2 linked regions of the Homo sapiens genome follow. The protein of the gene in region 1 purifies or fractionates together with the protein of each later gene. This does not show direct contact. Each region holds a gene or a part of one and is shown in the gene's direction. Other genes may lie near its edges. The genes, in order: RAB37 and ESPN.

Region 1 (3,811 bases):
AAGATCTCGCCATTGCACTCCAGCCTGGGCAACAAGAGCAAAACTCCATCTCAAAAAAAAAAAGAAAGAAAGAAAGAAAGAAACTTCCAAATAAATGTTGTGACACAAAAAAAAAAACCCAAACAATATTCATTATAGAGTATGCAAATGACCATGCCCCACCCCCAGCAGATTCTGATAGACTCCCTTGGGTGGGAATCCTTGTCCAATATATTGACACTTCCCTTTCCTGTCAGTATAGCCCAGCCCATGCGTGTACTCACGAGCGGACGATGGATGACACAAGTACACAGAGGGACGGAATCCCTGCATGGTGTGGCTATGGGCAAATGTGGCCACTGTCTAGATTGTGCAAATGTGGTGGTTCTCTGGGGCCACAGAGCACACTTGGGGACCTGTTCATGGTGAGGTCTCAACTCCGGCCTCTAGGAACTTGAATGAGGACAGGAGGGTCAGAGGGAGAGCCTAGGAGGCTGAGCCAAGGAGCGTGGAGAGGAGAGACAGGGTGAAGATGGCGGCTGGCTTTCTGGAAGCAGGTGGCCTTTGGTGCGGTCAGCATTCGTGCCAGCCCCCTCTTCTCTGATCCTCTCCATGTGTCTCTCTCCTGGAATCCCAGAAGCTGCCCCTGACTCCCCATTAACTGCCTCTGCCCCTACCCCCTAGGTGATGCTTCTGGGAGACACAGGCGTCGGCAAAACATGTTTCCTGATCCAATTCAAAGACGGGGCCTTCCTGTCCGGAACCTTCATAGCCACCGTCGGCATAGACTTCAGGGTGAGGTGGCTGCAGGCACTTGCTTCCAGCAGAGAGCCAGGGCTGTGGCTCAGGCATGGGGGGGTTGCCCCCACCTTGCTCACCCTGGCTCCCAGGGACTCCCGAGGCTCATGCCTGGAGGGCACACAACCCGCTCCCCCAAGACCACAGAGGTGGCCGGGTCAAAGGAGACTGGGCAAGGTTGGCTCCTTGCCCAACTATAGGATGCAAAAAAATGAGACTGAGTCTTCGATTCCAGCTCCATTCCTGGGGGACTTCTCCCAAGCAGAGCAGCCGCAGGCACGGCATAAGCTGAATATCTTGGCCCACAGAGCCCCTGCTCATTGCTCTCCTACCTGGGCCCCTTTGGAAAGGCCTCAAAGGTCAATCAGTCTTTCTGGAGTTCCCAGAAAGCACAGCCCTGCACTGGGTTTAAGAGCTGGGCTTGGGCCGGGCATGGTGGCTCTTGCCTGTATTCCCAGCACTTTGGGAGGCCGAAGCGGTCAGATCACAAGGTCAGGAGTTTGAGACCAGCCTGGCCAACATGGTGAAACCCCGTCTCTACTAAAAATACAAAAATTAGCCAGGTGTAGTGGCACGCTCCTGCAGTCCCAGCTACTCGGGAGGCTGAGGCAGGAGAATCGCTCAAATCCGGGTGGTGGAGGTTGCAGTGAGCTGAGATCGCGCCACTGCACTCCAGCCTGGGCAACAAAGTGAGACTGCGTCTCAGAAAAAAAAAAAAAAAAGAGCTGGGCTGGCCATGTTGGGAGACAGCAGCTCACCAGGGACCCTCCCTCTCACCTTGACGACTCCATCTTACAAATCTGCATCAGGGATGCTAGACGCTGCACACCTGAAGTGTTCAATAGAGAAAAGGTCTCACCCTGGCAGGTGGGGCTCTACAGCTTCAAGCAGGCAGAAAGCGAACACTTCCTTCACTAGAGAATTAGTGGGCAGCTAAAGAAAAGGTGCTGCTGCAGATGTAGCCTCAGGTCCCCAGGATGCAGGCAAACACCCCATCTCCAGGGGCTCGGTCACAGTCCCAAGGCTAGGCTCCAGGAGAGGGAGACCGAAGTGGGAAAAGGGCAGGGCCTCCAGCAGCAACCAGCCCTCCAGCCCTGGGCTGCCTGATCCCTGGAGAGAGCCAGGATGTTTCTCAGGCTCCTCTTGCCCTGCTGTTGTGAGAAGGCAGTTACAGTCCTCAGAAGGGACGACTCCACAGTGGAGGTGTCTGGGTATGGGGTTCCTGCTGCCCTGATGGTATGATCTGGCTGGAGACGGTTCTGGGGCTCACTGCACCCACTCTAGGCCTGGAGAGGGAACAAGACAGGACGTCTGCAGAGCTGAGGAGCCACATGACTCCTGCCCTCCCATCCTCTGCCTTTTTCTCTTTCAGAACAAGGTGGTGACTGTGGATGGCGTGAGAGTGAAGCTGCAGGTGAGACCAGAGGCTGGAGTTGGGGAGGGAGGATGGAGGACCTGCCCTTCCTTCTCACCCTGAACCACAGGAGGCCTGCAGCCCTGCCCTCCGCCTGGGGCAATTTCCTGTGGGGCCCACGGGAGGAAATGGCTTTTGTTTATTTGACATCTGCAGAAAAAGCAGTTCCCAGGCACCCTCTCATCTATGAACAGCAGCTCCAAATGCCTTCAGACAAGCTTAGCCTCCATCCATCTCCTCCCCAGTTGCCAGGGCTTTATCTGCTCTTAGGAGATTGGACATCCCCAACCCCTGAGCTAGGGGAGAGGAGAAGATTCTTTTTTTTTCTTTTCTTTTCTTTTTTTTTTTGAGATGGAGTCTCGCTCTGTCGCCCAGGCTGGAGTGCAGTGGCACAATCTCGGCTCACTGCAACCTCTGCCTCCCAGGTTTAAGAGATTCTCCTGCCTCAGCCTCCTGAGTAGCTGAGACTACAGGTGCATGCCACCACACCTGGCTAATTTTTTGTATTTTTAGTAGAGACGGGGTTTCACTGTGTTAGCCAGGATGGTCTGGATCTCCTGACCTCGTGATCCGCCTGCCTCGGCCTCCCAAAGTGCTGGGATTACAGGTGTAAGCCACCGCGCTCGGCTGAGGAGATGATTTTGAACGAGCTTGAGAAATCAGTAACTGCTACTGTCCAGGTCATTGGATGCTCAGGGGCTCATGAGAACCTAAAGAAGAAAACAGCCCCACCTTCCCACAGATATCTCATACAACAAAGCAGGCCTGCTCCACCCAGCACATTCCTTGCACCTGCCTCCTTCTGACCATTTCTCCATCCCATCCCTTCCCAGATCTGGGACACCGCTGGGCAGGAACGGTTCCGAAGCGTCACCCATGCTTATTACAGAGATGCTCAGGGTGAGTCCCTCGCACCCTCCAACCCCTACCCCAGCCCCTTGGTAGCATCCGTGCTGCTGCCTAAGTCCCCTCTGTGATCCTCTCCCCTCCAGCCTTGCTTCTGCTGTATGACATCACCAACAAATCTTCTTTCGACAACATCAGGGTAGGTCCTCCCTTCCCCTGACTCCCACCCATAAGCAGCCAAGGCAAGGTCTATGCAGGCTGGGGTTGCTTCCTGCCCTGTGGAAAGCGGGTGGAGCGTGGAGTCCTCCTGCCTTCTGAAAAACACCTACTTGTGACTCAGAAGTCATATCTGCTGCTTTGTATTTGGTGGCCATGTGGGCATGAAGGCCAAGCAGGCTGTTGTGACCCTGTGCCACCTGCATAGCCCTCACTGTGATTCACGAGTGTGTTTCGTGACAAAGTGTTCAGAACAGCCCCCACTCCACCCTGGATAATTATCCACAGAGACCAAGGGAAAAACACAACCAGAAAAGTCCACACATACATCCAGGGCAAGTTGCAAGAAAGTGACTCAGTCAGACAGAGTGAGTGGTTGTATCCTCACAACCAAACTATTATAGAGACAAAAATTTGATAAATTCAAGCACCAATTTTGTTCACGACATTGTATAGGTTTCATGAATCCCCTGACCTCAAGGACAGTTTGCTGATAAGCAAACTAGGAGAATAAAACGTTTATATAGAAAGAGGAAAATCCATGGCACTCATACTCCT
Region 2 (3,145 bases), on another chromosome or scaffold:
GCTGCTGAGGCAGCGGCAGGCGGTGGGCAAGCTGCTGGGCCACTGGCGGAGCCTGCTGCGTCGCGTGCCGGCAAGCCCGGGCCTGGCGCACGGCCTGTATTGGCCCCAGCACTTCCTGCCGCCCCTGGACGGCGGCGCACCCCCGCACTACGACAGCCTCACGCTCGACCTCTTCATGCTCGGCTACTTCCAGCTACTCGAGATGGGCCTGAGCCGCGAGGAGCGCAAGTTCCGCCACCTACTGTGCTACGAGATGTTCGACCGACTGGGCAGCCACCCGTGGGAGCGCATCCGCCTCTTCCACCGCGTGGTGCTGGAGGAGGTGGAGGCCGGCCGGCGCGGCTGGAGCGACGGCTTCGAGGACCTCAGGCACCGGTTCTTCGGAAACGGCCTGGAGGCTGAGCCGGCCCCCGAAGAACAGGCGAAGGAAAAGGAAGAGGAGGGGAAAGAACAGGAGCGGACCGAAGAGGCTGCTCCATTTCAGACGGGGGACCCGCCTGAGGGGCAGCCCGAGGCCCTGGCCCCTGCGCCGCAGCCGCCGCCGCCGCCCCCGCCCGCCGCGCCTCCCCCGACCTCAGACTCTCCTGGTTCCGAAGCCCCCGCCGAAGACCCCTTGGAACTGGTGTCTGAGATGGGCGAGTTCAGCAACGAGGACATCTGCCGCTACATCGACCGCAGCTTCTCCTTCTGGAAAGAGAAGGAGGCAGAGCTGTTTGACATCTGAGCAGCGGAATTCGGAATTCTCAGTTCACCCTCGAGCGTCTTAACGTGGGCCTGGACGCCTGTCTGACGCCCTCCAGAGGCTGGAAGCAGCAGGAAGAGCCCAGGACTGTGGCCTTGAGCAGCCCGGAGGGCCCAGGACCAGGCTGCCTCAGCCTCTGAGGTCCCATCGTGGCGGGCTGTGGGGCGTTGGTCGGATAGGCAGGGCAGGCACAGAACAGACCAGGTGTCCGCCTCTGGCCCCGTGGCCTTGCTGAGCTCTGTGTGGAGCCAGGCAGCAGAAGAAGCCCCTCTGAGTGAGGGGCTGCGGCTCCTCCTTGCGGCAGTGTGGCCTGCTCTTTGGTTTTCCACTGGAGTTCACAGCTACCTCCTTGGCTGAGGTCAAGGGTGCCACGTGTGCAGTGTTCTGTGTGAAGTGTGCCGTGTACAGACCCGTTCTCCTCTGTAACATTCAGGAAATAAAACTCTTTGCTGTAAACTGCCTGCGTTGGACACCACACCTGCCCCTGATGTCATTGTAGCCCCACGATTGTAGTGCCCGTATCCACTCTATTGGGAAGATGGCAACCATGGGGTGAAGGTCCTTCACAGGGGAGCCAGGGGCAGCCTGAGTCTCCCTGAGCCAAGAGGCTGGGTGGGGGCTGGCTGGCATCTGCGTCTGCCCAGAGGTCTTGGGCCTGTGGCCATTGGCCACCTGCCTCTGCGGGGAATCAGGCTCAGGACCTCTGGGTCCCAGCTACTTGTTCTCTGCTTCTGTCCCATTCAGCTCTGATCTCTCTGGTGCCTCCTGTAGGACATGAGGGTCTGGGTTACTAGGGGAAAGGAGGCCAGCTCTGAGGGGGTGTGACCAGGCACCTCCATCCACTTGTCACACAGATGTGCATCAAAAGGATGTCTTCCTGTGACCCTGACTCCTTCAGGTCCCGAGGTTGAGGGTGCCCCCTATCTCCCAGCCCCTGCAGGCCCTGAAGCTTTGTGGTTGTGTTTCAGGAGGAGGAGGAGGAGGCCCGGCTGGCCAGCATGCCCGCCTGGAGGCGGGACCTCCTGCGGAAGAAGCTGGAAGAAGAGAGGTGAGCTGGGGGTCAGGCAGAGGCTGGCCTGGCAGGGTGTCTTGACTGCGTCCCTGAGGTGGAGGTACCAAGTGACACTGTCTCTTTTTCCTTCCAGGGAGCAGAAGCGGTGAGTGCAGGGCTGGCCCCAACCTGCCACCCTTATCCCCACCCAAGTCGCAGAGGGTCGTCCCTTCATCCAGGCCAATTTGAGTACATCCTCCTGTCTCTTGGCCCTTGTAGCACAGCCTCCTTCCTCCCTATAATACCCCAGAATCTCTCTCTCATGCTCTAATAACTTTGTTCCCGGTTACTCAGTCCCTGCCTCCTATTAACCTGGCCTTTTCTACCCTTCAGTTAACCTAACCCCACTATCAATCACCTTGATTGTCTGGCCCTCAGAATGTACTTTCTGCCCCTAGTCATCTCACCCAGCCCAGTGCTGGCCAATAGAAATGTAATGAGAGCCACAGATGTAATTTAAAATTTTCTAGTAGCCACAGTGAAAATGTAGAAGGATATAGGTGAGCTTCATTTTAGTACTGTTTTATTTGGCACAAAATATCAAAAATATTATTTCAACACATAATCAATTATGAAAATTATTAATGAGATGTTTTATACTCCTCTTGTAAAAGTAAGTCTTTGGCCAGGCATGGTGGTTTACACATGTAATCCCAGCACTTTGAGAGGCCAAGGCAGGGGGACCACTTGAGCCCAGAAGTCTGAGACCAGCCTGGGCAATGCAGTGAGACCTCATTCTGCGAAAAAAAAAAAAAAAAAAAAATTTTTTTTTGAGATGGGGTTTCACTCTTGTCACCCAATCTGGAGTGCAGTGGCGATCTGGGCTCATGCAACCTCTGCCTCCTGGGTTCAAGTGATTCTCCTGCCTCAGCCTCCCAAGTAGCTGGGATTACAAGCGTGTGCCACCACACCCAGCTAATTTTGTATTTTTAGTAGAGATGGGGTTTCACCATGTTGGCCAAGCTGGTCTCAAACTCCTGACCTGAAGCGATCCACCCGCCTCGGCCTCCCAAAGTGCTGGGATTATAGGCATGAGCCACCAAGTCTGGCTTTTTTCTTTTTTTTTGAGACAGAGTTTTGCTCTTGTTGTCCAGGCTGGAGTACAGTGGCACAATCTTGGCTCACTGCAACCTCTACCTCCTGGGTTCAAGTGATTCTCCTGCCTCAGCCTCCCTGGTAGTTGGGATTACAGGCGCCCGCCACCACGCCCGGCTAATTTTTGTATTTTTAGTAGAGGCCGGGTTTTGCCATGTTGGTCAGGCTGGTCTCGAACTCCTGACCTCAGGTGATCCACCCGCCTCAGCCTCCCAAAGTGCTGGGATCACAGGCGTAAGCCTTCGCACCAGGCCTGC

Evidence for each region.
Region 2: the proteins of RAB37 (region 1) and ESPN purify together in Homo sapiens (affinity purification with mass spectrometry; one large-scale study listed by BioGRID and IntAct). This does not show direct contact.

What each region holds. Positions count from the first base shown.
Region 1 is NC_000017.11:74,740,105-74,743,915, forward strand, and holds part of RAB37 (ras-related protein Rab-37), read left to right. Parts: intron 1-663; coding exon 664-774; intron 775-2,149; coding exon 2,150-2,191; intron 2,192-3,024; coding exon 3,025-3,091; intron 3,092-3,183; coding exon 3,184-3,236; intron 3,237-3,811. UniProt on the Homo sapiens protein: The small GTPases Rab are key regulators of intracellular membrane trafficking, from the formation of transport vesicles to their fusion with membranes.
Region 2 is NC_000001.11:6,455,474-6,458,618, forward strand, and holds part of ESPN (espin), read left to right. Parts: coding exon of another isoform or gene 1-724; exon of another isoform or gene 725-1,198; intron 1,199-1,710; coding exon 1,711-1,790; intron 1,791-1,887; coding exon 1,888-1,899; intron 1,900-3,145. UniProt on the Homo sapiens protein: Multifunctional actin-bundling protein. Plays a major role in regulating the organization, dimension, dynamics and signaling capacities of the actin filament-rich microvilli in the mechanosensory and chemosensory cells.